Linked DNA regions of Homo sapiens. The protein of the gene in region 1 interacts with the protein of each later gene in a pairwise test. Each region holds a gene or a part of one and is shown on either strand. Other genes may lie near its edges. The genes, in order: DUSP10, ROR2 and PTK7.

Evidence for each region.
Region 2: the proteins of DUSP10 (region 1) and ROR2 interact in a two-hybrid assay, tested with the Homo sapiens proteins (one study listed by BioGRID and IntAct).
Region 3: the proteins of DUSP10 (region 1) and PTK7 interact in a two-hybrid assay, tested with the Homo sapiens proteins (one study listed by BioGRID and IntAct).

What each region holds. Positions count from the first base shown.
Region 1 is NC_000001.11:221,732,030-221,735,680, forward strand, and holds part of DUSP10 (dual specificity protein phosphatase 10), read right to left. Parts: exon of another isoform or gene 3,406-3,651; intron 1-3,405. UniProt on the Homo sapiens protein: Protein phosphatase involved in the inactivation of MAP kinases. Has a specificity for the MAPK11/MAPK12/MAPK13/MAPK14 subfamily. It preferably dephosphorylates p38.
Region 2 is NC_000009.12:91,733,612-91,737,262, forward strand, and holds part of ROR2 (tyrosine-protein kinase transmembrane receptor ROR2 isoform 1 precursor), read right to left. Parts: intron 1-3,651. UniProt on the Homo sapiens protein: Tyrosine-protein kinase receptor which may be involved in the early formation of the chondrocytes. It seems to be required for cartilage and growth plate development. Phosphorylates YWHAB, leading to induction of osteogenesis and bone formation.
Region 3 is NC_000006.12:43,131,700-43,135,350, reverse strand, and holds part of PTK7 (inactive tyrosine-protein kinase 7 isoform a precursor), read right to left. Parts: intron 3,336-3,651; coding exon 3,187-3,335; intron 2,931-3,186; coding exon 2,664-2,930; intron 1-2,663. UniProt on the Homo sapiens protein: Inactive tyrosine kinase involved in Wnt signaling pathway. Component of both the non-canonical (also known as the Wnt/planar cell polarity signaling) and the canonical Wnt signaling pathway.

The DNA.
Region 1 (3,651 bases):
GAAACATGAACACAATTTCCAAGATGGAAAGGATCTGGAAGACTGGTCCCATCCATATATGTTGTCTTTCTTGCATTTGAATGATAAGCATTGTGATGCAGATTGCCCAGCCTGCAGATTAGTGCCTAGCACACCAAAGGCATTCAACAATATTTATTGAACAAACAAATGAATCTCCTCTGCCCACAAGTTTGTACAGCTGTGGAGACCACCTACCAAAAAGTCCCTAGAAGCCTAAGATGGTTGGGCTTCTTTGATACCTGTTTTGATAGCTGTTAACAGCTGAAACCACTAGGTTAACAGCTTAAACCACTAGGTTCCCCAGATGAAGAGATTAAATCAACATTAATATTTGGTCCATATTCTAATATCCAGGTAAATATATAGACCATGAACTGCTGGTTTTGAAAGTCCTCAGACTTTGGTCTTTTTAGTTCTGAACTGAAATCTCAAAATTCAAGAAAAAAGGCATCAGTACTCAAAAAATCTTATATTTTATGCTATATATTAGATTCTGTTGTTATTAAATAATGATACATACGAATACCTCAGTCTGTTGATATCTATTGAATCTGTTGAACCTGGCAAGACCTACTTTAACATTAAGGACTAAATCTCTAAAATTAATCATGCATGTGACCTTGGACAAGCCCCATTCCTGTAGTGGCATAATGAGAATACCGGACTAGATCAATGGTTCTCAAACTTTGCTGCCTGTTAGAATCACTTTGGGAGCTTTAAAAAAATCTTGATGTGCAGGCTGCACCCCAGACCAATTTAATCAGGCTTTCTGGACACACGAACTGGGCATCATAGGTTATAAATCACCTTCAGGTGATACCAATGAACAGCCTGCAGTGAAAACTACTGGATTAGGGGCCCTCTAAAGTTCCTTGCTCTTCTCAAAGCTGGGATTCTTTAGTTCCAAAAAGGTGAGATGACCTCTCCTGGAACTAGAATTTCTCTCCTTAATATGTAGTCTATCTTTTTCAACCAACTTGGATTAAACTGCCTAAGCACTCCGATATATCACACATTCATGCCCAAACTGCTCTTCAGCAATGCTGGGGCTTGGAGGTTCTGGCTTCTGATAATGCAGGGTTTAAGGAACTAGATTTTTGCTACTGGTCAAAAGCTCCCACTTAGTCCCTGAGGGTGTATGCACCAGGAGTATGTGACGGAAAGTTTTTCTGCTCCTGTAATTTTGTCAGACCTTCAGATGGGTTTGCCTAAAGGACCAAGTAGAAAAGTGTACATATTCACCATTCTCCCTTCTCCTTTCTCCTATACACACGTGCTTTGAAAACAGAAATAGGCAAAGTGCTTTACCTATTCAGTTTCCTTCCCCTGCTTTGCTTTTCTAATGTGAAATCATGTCTCCTATTGCCAGGAGAGGAGTTTCTTGAACTTGTCCATGACAAGCTGGATGATTAAGTTAATTAACTGTTCTGAATTGGTAAGGGCAAGAGTATTCATACTTAACAGGCTCCCACAGTACTGTGCTTAGAACGACTTGCCCATCCTCCCCAATACCCCTGCCCCTGCAATGTAAGAGGTTCTTACATTAGTGCATGAGAGTAGGAGAGCAGGGTCCAGAGGCTTGATTTATTGACAGCCATCAAATGCCAGGTACTTTGTATCACCTTGTTTCAACCTAGGATGCTGGAGCTGTCCCTGTTTTACAATGAAGAAAACCTGGCCTCTGAGAGGCCCCCTGATTTGCCTAAAGGCATACAGTTGGTCAATGGAAATGCCTAGATTTGAACCCAGGTGTAAGTGAGCAAAATTTCACTCTGCTGAGCACATCGTGAATGAGGAACAGATAAAGCAAGAACATGGCTGGGAGAGAGAGTTCATTTCTATTATCTGTTCACCTACACTTAAATTAGGAAGCAGGAGAGTGTACCCAAAAGCTCAGAGAGAGGACAGCCAACTAACTGTGCAGCAGTTCAGAAAGAAGTTTCAGGACTTCCTGAAAGACAGGAGCAGGCCATTCAACTCCTTCCCTCCTTTTTCCTTCACATTCTAACTCAACACAACCCTAGGCTCAGGAACCAGCGCACCCCTCCTTCCATCTACCCTTTTATAGTCAGTCCACAATCCTTATTCCAAAAATAAATCCTCCTGATGAGATGATGAGAGGCAACAAAAAGCAAAGCTAAAAAGTTTTATGCTTTTGTTATGGGACATTATTTGGACAGAATTATTATCATGTTTTTACAAATTTCCCTAAAACAAATAATTCTGGATATACCCAAATTACTCCAGCCTCCTGGCCCAATATGTTTTTGCAATTACTTGGCACTCCAACTCTATGCAACTTAAATTAGTTAACAGTCACCAAGTTATTTTTAGGCCATAGCAACACACACACTCTACTATACCTAGCTTGTTATTTGTACTCCTTAGGAACAAAATTTGCCTTTGTACTGGCACTATCATTTCCTTTCAATCAATATCAATAAAAACATTCTACCATATTTATGGAGTGCTTACCATGTATGTGTATAAAGTTCTGAACACTTTACACACATTAATTCATTTATTTCAGAAACTAACACTTTGAGATAGCTATTGTTATATCCTCTTTTTGTTAATGAGGTAACTAAGGAACTGAAGGATTCAGTTCCTTCCCCAAGGGCACATACCTAGTTAGAGGGGAGCCAAGGCTAGCATTCAGGCTGACTAGATCCGAAGTTCTGCCTTGATTTCTCCATCATTTGCTACAAGGCTAATGTTTGACATTTTAGCCTTGGATGTTAACCAGAGGCTCAGAATAACAACAGCACGTTTATGAATGTAGATATGTCTTTATTTCAGGTATTTTTTAAAATCCTCATAACATCTCTGAGAGAAAAGGGGAGACTTTTATTCCCTTCCCCACCCCACCCCCGAAAAAAGGGCAGAAACAGAATATTTTTCACAGGTCTCTGATTTCTGAGCCTAGCCATCCACTTTGTCATAGAACTCTATTGCCAATAAGAGTATATTTCAGAATTCTTTTCAACTAGGGAAAAGTGTGCAATGTATGGTGCTCAATTCTAAGGAGTGATGAAGTTTTATAGTATAAAGGCCTAACTGCCTGCATGATCAAATCCTCCCCATGGATCATCCTTTTAAACCATTTCCCTCTTCTTCTCACATTCCCCCAGTAAAGGCCTTTGGTACAGAGCAGTCCTATAAAGATTGTAGCAGTTGGTCATTCCTTGTTTTACAACAGCATAGAGCAAGTAGAGGCATGGGCTCTGACATACCAGGGAGGAAGGGGGACACACAGACCCCAAGGAGGCACCTGGAGCCCTCCTACTCCCAGGGAGGGAAGCTCCTCTGTAGACCTGACTGCCAGTCAGTCACAGAGGGATTCGAAGTTGAAAAGCACTTAAAAATGGGTACATGACACTCAAGTGTTTACGAGTGAAAATGTTCATAGTATACTATAAAATATTTCCAGCTTTATTGAATTTGAAACATTAATTTACACATTAAACATACTTAAATACATTAAAACATTATCTATATTTTTAAATATTTCAACAGAAAAGAGAAAGCAAATAGGAAAAATATAATTGTTTAATCTGGTTGATAGGTGTATGGATGTTCATTACACACTTTTCTGCTTTTCTATATGCTTGAAAATGTTTATAATAACAT
Region 2 (3,651 bases), on another chromosome or scaffold:
CAGCAGGCCAGCCTGCCCATCACCTGCTCTGATTTGCAGCAGTCACAGAAAAGTCCCTGGTCCCAGGGCCTCACTTAGAAACATCAGAAGCAGAACAAGAAAGAAGGAAAACTCGGCCCCCTAGCTCACTCCGCTAGGTGCTTCTTCCAGGACAAGAGGGTTCAGACTTCAGATGCAAAAGCAGATCCTAAGGACCCGCCATGTGTGGAGAGCGCAGGCCAAGAAGTGCAGTACCGAGCCCCAGGCTTCCCAATGTCCCAGATCTGTCTGGGGAGAAGGCTGTCCCGGAAGAGGGAGTCAGCTCAGCTCTGTGAACTGCAGCTGGAGGAGACAGTTGGTAAAATGCGGAAAGCCAAGAGGGTGAGAGCAGCAAAGTGGGAGGAGAGCCGCGTTACAACTCTGGAAGGTTCTGTGATAAGGGGGAGCAGAAAAACCCGAAGATCCAGAGCCCCCTTTGGTAGGGCGGTTTGTTTTTTAAGGGCAAGATGTCAGAGGATGCAGTTTGGTGGTTAGAAGATGGGGTGAGTTCGGGAACAAAGTGGGGGTGTTGGGGAGAGATCTGCTGCACCTGGGGTGCATGGCTGGACACTGGTAAGGGTGAAGAAGCTGGCCAAGGCAGGGCTCTAAGGAATGCATCAGCCTGCCCTGGGCTCACTACCCCATTTTCACCTGTGAAAGGCTGGCTTACAACAATTGAGCTTGGGGACAGTGGAGGCAGACAGGCCCCTTTGCCTGCACACCCAGCAGAGGCTGTGTCCTCCAGCGTGGCAGAAAACCCAGAAGCTGGCATTTAGTCCCTGAGGAGCCCTAACTCCACCCACGAATGCAGTTCAATCCCATCATTACAGATTTGGCGATTATTTGGTGATTATACAGAGGGCTGTCAAGAATGCTGGCCTTGACCTCCAGGCAAGGAAAGCGTGTAAGTGCTGTGCCAGGTTTGGCCAGCAGGTGGCAGTGCCGCTGTCAGTCATTCCCTGGGAACCCACCCAGGAACGGGATGGGCAGCTGTGTGGGAACAGCCTTGTGCGTGATCACTTTGTGGTATCACTCATGCCTTTCCGGGCCTGTTTCTGTACCTGAAGAGTGATTTGAGACCCCACACTGGGGAATGAGAGTGCACACAGAGCCTATAAAGTGGCCCTCAGCGTGAATGGGCCCAGGGGTCTGGTAAAAGGCGGCGTCAGTGGGCGGGAGCAGCCACGCTGTCCTGATTGTGTGCAGGCACTACTGTGCTCATCACATCACCTCCCCTCCTCTGGGTTCCTGTGGCCGATATTTAAATGGAGGAACAGAGAGGGCAAGCAGTTACAGTACAGGATGTCTTGGATTTGGAGGAAGAACTGAGGCTTCAACCCTGTTCAATCCCATCATTACAGATTTGGGATTATATGGATGGCTGTCAAAAATGTAGGTAGGCCTTGACCTCCAGGCAGGGAAAGATTGTCTAAGAATGCCAAAGCTGTCACTTCTCTTGGGCTAATCCACTGATAGGATGTCTCTGCTGATCTTTATAGGATTTCTCTTTCTCCTTCTCCTCACCCTGAGAATGTACTGCTTATTTCTGAAAGTGCAATTCTAGGCACAAAGAGATCCAACAACTCACATCCTGTTATCTGTCCACACCCTGAATGTCACACAACACTTTCCAACACAACACTGCACACAACGCAGTCATTACTATGCTTATTTCAAAACCACAAGTCTGTTGAGAGCAACTTCAAATTTACTGTTTTCAAAAAGCCACCCACCTAGAAAATCTTCATTCTAAACTCTTCTCTAAAAGATGCTATAAAACCAGGCTGCTTGGATGCAAGCTGATTCCTTAAACAACTCCTGAAGAGATAACTGAGGGACAATCTTGTGCCCTGGATCAGTGCTTGCCAATTAGTAGGGTGTCTAATTAATTCTGAGAGTCTGCAGCTAGCATTTTAAAAGATGGTAAGAACAGACTAGAGGATGTCAGAATGCACGGTTCCTACTAAGGGCTCTAACTTTTTTTTTTTTTTTTTTTTTTTTTTTTTTTTTTTTTGAGACAGAGTCTTGCTCTGTCTCTGGGGCTGGAGTGCAGTGGCGCGATCTGCAACTTCCACCTCTCGGGTTTAAGTGATTCTTCTGCCTCAGCCTCCCAAGTAGCTGGGATTACAGGCACCCGCCACCATGCCCAGCTAATTTTTTGTGTTTTTAGTAGAGATGGGGTTTCACCATGTTGGTCAGGCTGGTCTTGAACTCCTGACCTCGTGATTTGCCCGCCTCAGCCTCCGAAAGTGCTAGGATTACAGGCGTGAGCCACCGTGCCCGGCCACTTTTTTATTTAATGAAATAAAACTGAAAAGAAAAATCCAAGTGCACCGCTTTTACGAAGGGTGAAAGTTATTCCCTGTAACCTATGTCAGTTGTGTGAAATACATGTATGTGTACACTAAGTCATGGCGTAAAGTATATTCTCTATTTTCCACTGTGTGTTTCGGTAAAAACCTTTGAGAAGTCCTACTTTAATGGCAAAGAAAGCTTTTGCAGTGAGAGGTAGCCATATTTTCAAAACCATCTCCCGCTGGAACAGGATGGCATCTCCAGGTTCCTCTCTGTCTCATGATGGCTCTTTCAGTTTGCACAGGACCCCCTGGCCCTGTCCTCAGAGGTCTCTGTACCAGCACATGGGCCAGGCAGTCTCTTCTGTGACCGTGAATGTGATGTTCGACTCTCTAGTCCGAGGGTGACCTGAACTTAGAAGGGCTTGTCAGTGACATGAGGTGACTTTCTGCCTTGGATCCTCATTGTCACCCCTTAACAGGTCAGTGCCCTGTATCCCCTTTGCCCCACCACACTCTCCCAGGAGCGCAGGCATCAGAGATCACCCACTGACTCTAATCTGCAGCAGAGCCTCCCGCTCCCATGGAGAGGATCCAACTAAACTGAGGTGCTGGGGCACCGGCCATCTGCACAGGATGTGTCTTGCTCCTTATGGGATCTGGAGAGAAAATGTGTATGTGTTTGTGGAGAGAGTAGAGACAGCAGGAGGAGGGCTCTGTAGGACTATTGTCTAATTAATTTTCTTCCTTTCCAAGGCCTTTCCCCTAAGAAGGACCCCGGACCCCATCAATGTGTTCGAGTTGTATGCTGGGAACTGGGACAGCCAATCAGAGAAGTTAAGTCCTAATGAGACCAAGGATGAGCAGCTGCAGTTCCTAATTGACTTGCCACTTTCTCAGACCCTGAACCAGGTACCCAAAGACGTGGCTTTGTTCTCTGGAAACCCAGGACTGACAAAGTGTGTGTTCACTGCAGCATCCCTACCACTGATGACCCGCGACTCTTTCCCCAAAACAGCTGCAATCAGGCCTGGGTGCCTTTGGACCAAACGTGGCTCAGAGAGGATAGAAGAGTCAGGAAGTACAGAATGAGAAGTCAAGCAGAGTGAGTGTGGGGGCGCTGAGGCTATCTGCGCCAGTGTGGCAGGCCCGGGGCAGGAGGCCCTGGCGTTGCAGTGAGGACAGTGCTTTGGACCCACACGGTTTGGCTGAGTTAAAAGTGCAGAAGTATATTCCAAGCAACCCACACTTGCTAATTTAAACATACAGGCCAGGAACATTTTTAGGGCAAATCATGTTAGCAATTGCCACTACTTCTAAAAAAGATCTCTGGTTTCTA
Region 3 (3,651 bases), on another chromosome or scaffold:
CAGTACTGGGAAGAGCTAGCACAAGGTGCTCGACAAATCTCTGTTGACTGAATGCATTCCCAGAGCTCTCCGTCTTCTGGGCTCTACCCTCTAACACCCAGCACCTGATCTGGCCCTGTTTGCATCACACACTCTCAAATGCCACAGGCCTCCTTCTCAGAGCACAGCAAGGGACACTGGCATGGCTCAGTGTCAGCCTCAGTCAGCATCTGTGGAATGACTGATCAAAGCCAGAGTTCCCCAACTTGAACACACATGAAGTATCACCCAGAGCACTTGTTAAATACACATCTACCTGGGTCCCACCCCTAGAGCCTGGGTTGGAAGCTGTGGAGTGGGGCCCCGAATTCTGCATTTTTTTTCTTTTTTTCAAGGCTCCAGCAATGTCTTAGACATTTTTTTGGAGACAGGGTCTTGCTGTCATCCAGGCTCCAGTACAGTAGTGTGATCATAGCTCACTGGAACCTCCAGCTCCCGAGCTCAAATGATCCTCCAGCCTCAGCCTCCCAAATAGTTGGGATTATAGGTGTGCATCACCATACCTGGCTAAATTTTTTTTTTTTTTTTTCCTGAGACAAAGTCTCGCTCTGTCACCCAGGCTGGAGTGCAATGGCACGATCTCGACTCACTGCAACCTCTGCCTCCTGGATTCAAGCAATTCTCCTGCCCCAGCCTCCCAAGTAGCTGGGATTACAGGTGAGTGCCAACATGCCCAGCTAATTTTTGTATTTTTAGTAGAGACGGGGTTTCACCATGTTGGTCAGGCTGATCTCGAACTCCTGACCTCGTGATCCACCCACCTCGGCCTCCCAAAGTGCTGGGATTACAAGCGTGAGCCACCGCGCCCAGCTAACTTTTTAAATTTCTGTAGACACAAGGTCTCACTATTTTGTCCAGCCTGGTCTCAAACTCCTGGGCTCAAGAGATCTTCCTATCTCGGCCTCCCAAAGCACTGGGATTATAGGTGTGAACCACCACGCCTGGCCTGTGTTTTAAAAAGTATCCCTAATGAGGCCGGGCATGGCAGCTCACACCCATAATCCCAGCACTTTAGGAGGCCGAGGCAGGTGGATCACTTGAGGTCAAGAGTTTGAGACTAGCCTGGCCAACATGGTAAAACATCGCCTCTACTAAAAATACAAAAATTAGCCAGGTGTGGTGGCACACACCTTTAAACCCAGCTACTTGGGAGGCTGAGGCACGAGAATCACTTGAACCTGGGAGGCGCAGGTTGCAGTGAGCCAAGATCACACCACTACACTCCAGCCTGGGTGACAGAGTGAGACTCCGTCTCAAACAAAAGAAGAAAAAGTATCCCTAATGAAAGCAGGTGATTCTCAGACCTCAACTGGAGGAAGGCTTGACTGTGCATCTTGCCTTTGCACCTGCACTGTGAGTGTCCTGAGCACTCGTTACACATGTGCTGTGATTCCCACCCAAATCACGGCCTGAGTATAGGTGCATGTCTTCTAAGATTTCAGTATCCTAATGGGAATACTAGCATCACAACTTCACATTTACAAAGCCACTTTCATATTCAAATCTTTTTGCAAAGTTACCCACTCGGAAAGATAATAGTAACATAAAGGTAAGTGGAAGAAGCAGATTGCAAAATAGTTTGTATGTATGTGTGTCTCTGTGTGCATATTGTAATTTTTATTGTGTATCCTTTTAAACTACCACAAAAGGTTTGGAACAAGGCATGGTATAAAGAAATAAGTAAACAAATAAATCCCTATGCCTGTAGTGAGGATATAAGGTTTGTTTTGTTTTGTTTTGAGATGGAGTCTCACTCTGTTGCCCGGGCTGAAGAGCAACGGTGCGATCTCAGCTCATTGCAACCTCTGCCTCCTGGGTTCAAGCAATTTTCCTCCCTCAGCCTCCTGAGTAGCTGGGATTACAGGTGTGCCCCACCACGCCCAGCTAATTTTTGTATTTTTAGTAGAGATGGGGTTTCACCATGTTGGTCAGGCTGGTCTCCAACTCCTGACCTTGTGATCCGCCCGGCTCGGCCTCCCAAAGTGCTGGGATTACAGGCATGAGCCACCGCGCCCAGCCTGATATAAAGGGTTTATCATGTGTACTTTCAGTCATATGTCTTGCTTTTCTCCCCCTCTTTTTTTTCATAAGTAATATGTTTAGTAAAGAAATTTGGAAAGCATAACAAACTAAAACAAATTAAAAATCACCTATAATTTTGTCCACTATTACCTCCCAAAAAAGAAAAAAAGAAAAATCATTTTCATCTACTTCATTTGACCTTTCCAACCACCTTGTGGGGTAGGTAGTAGATTACTGGCTCCATTTTATGGATGAGGAGACTGAACCCCAGTAAGGTGGGTGATTTGCTACCATCGTCACTCTGTGCATTGGGAGCATAGTGGGACCCAGGTCTCTAGATTCCTAGTCTATTGCTCTTTCCTCTGTACCCAGAGGACCATTTTTCTGTGAGGGCTGTCACTATTTCCTCTGGAGCACCCACCCTAACCCCTGTGCCTGGCTCTCTACTGTCTACACCGACTCCCAGTAGTGAACTGATTCCCAAGCCTGCAGGGCCCAGAACTGAGAGGACCTCAGGTGAGTACCAGGGAAGCCTCTGTCCATCACACCCAGACCTGTGTTCCCCTCCACCTCTCCTTGACCTTCAGGGCAAAGGTGCTCACTGGCCACAGTGATGTTGACATCCTGTCTCCGCTGACCAGCCAGGTTGGCCGCGTGGCAGGTGTAGACACCAGCATCACTTTCAGCAATATTGGCCAACACCAGCTCGTGGCCCTTCTGGTAGACCCTGCCATGGGTGGGCAGCCGGACTCCCGCGTGCTCCCACCACACGCTGGGCTCTGGCAGACCCTTGGGGGGAAGGCAGGTCACACGCTCCTCGCTGCCAGCTGTAAACACCCGTGGCTCAAATAGCGGCATGTCTTCAATCTCTGCAAGGACATAAGTAGGAGGAATGGCCCAATTATTGTGGGTCTCAGGGTACATGATGTTCTCCCACAGCAAGCCTAGGCCCTTTCCCAGCACAAACCCTCCCCTGCAGCCCTCTGCATATCCTCTTCCTACTCCCAGCATCCTTTTCTTCCCCTGCCCTCCAAGCGGCTGAGTAAAAACAGAAGCCTAAATCTCTATGTGCCAAAAATGTTAAAGGCAGCCTCCCACATCAGCACCCCAGACCCAGAGACTCACCTGCTAGGTGAAGTGTGGCTTCCAGGATGATGGGTGGGCCCCTCTGCCCCTGGCCAATGCAGCGGTAGATCCCTGCATTGCGTGGCCGGACCTGGGTCAGCAGCAGAGACCCGTTGGCAAACACTGTGGCTCTGCGGAGGTGTGGGGGGCTGCAGAGGGGAGAGTGCAATTTGGAGAAAGTGGCCAATAGGCCTAGTTCTGGAAAGGAATGCAAGGGAACCCCTTTCCTGCAAAGTCGGAAATGTAGTAAGGAATCGACCAGGAACAGGGCAGAGAGAAGGAAGCTGACACTCCAGACTGGTGTGTGTGCCTGCATACACTTGCTCAGGTGCACGTGCAGGTGTGTGTTCCAACTACAGGAGATCAGCTCGGGAAGCAATGAGGCAAATGGCAATGCAGGTGCGAGAGAGAGTGATATGGTTTGGCTGTGTCCCCACTCAAATCTCATCTTAAATTGTAGCTCCC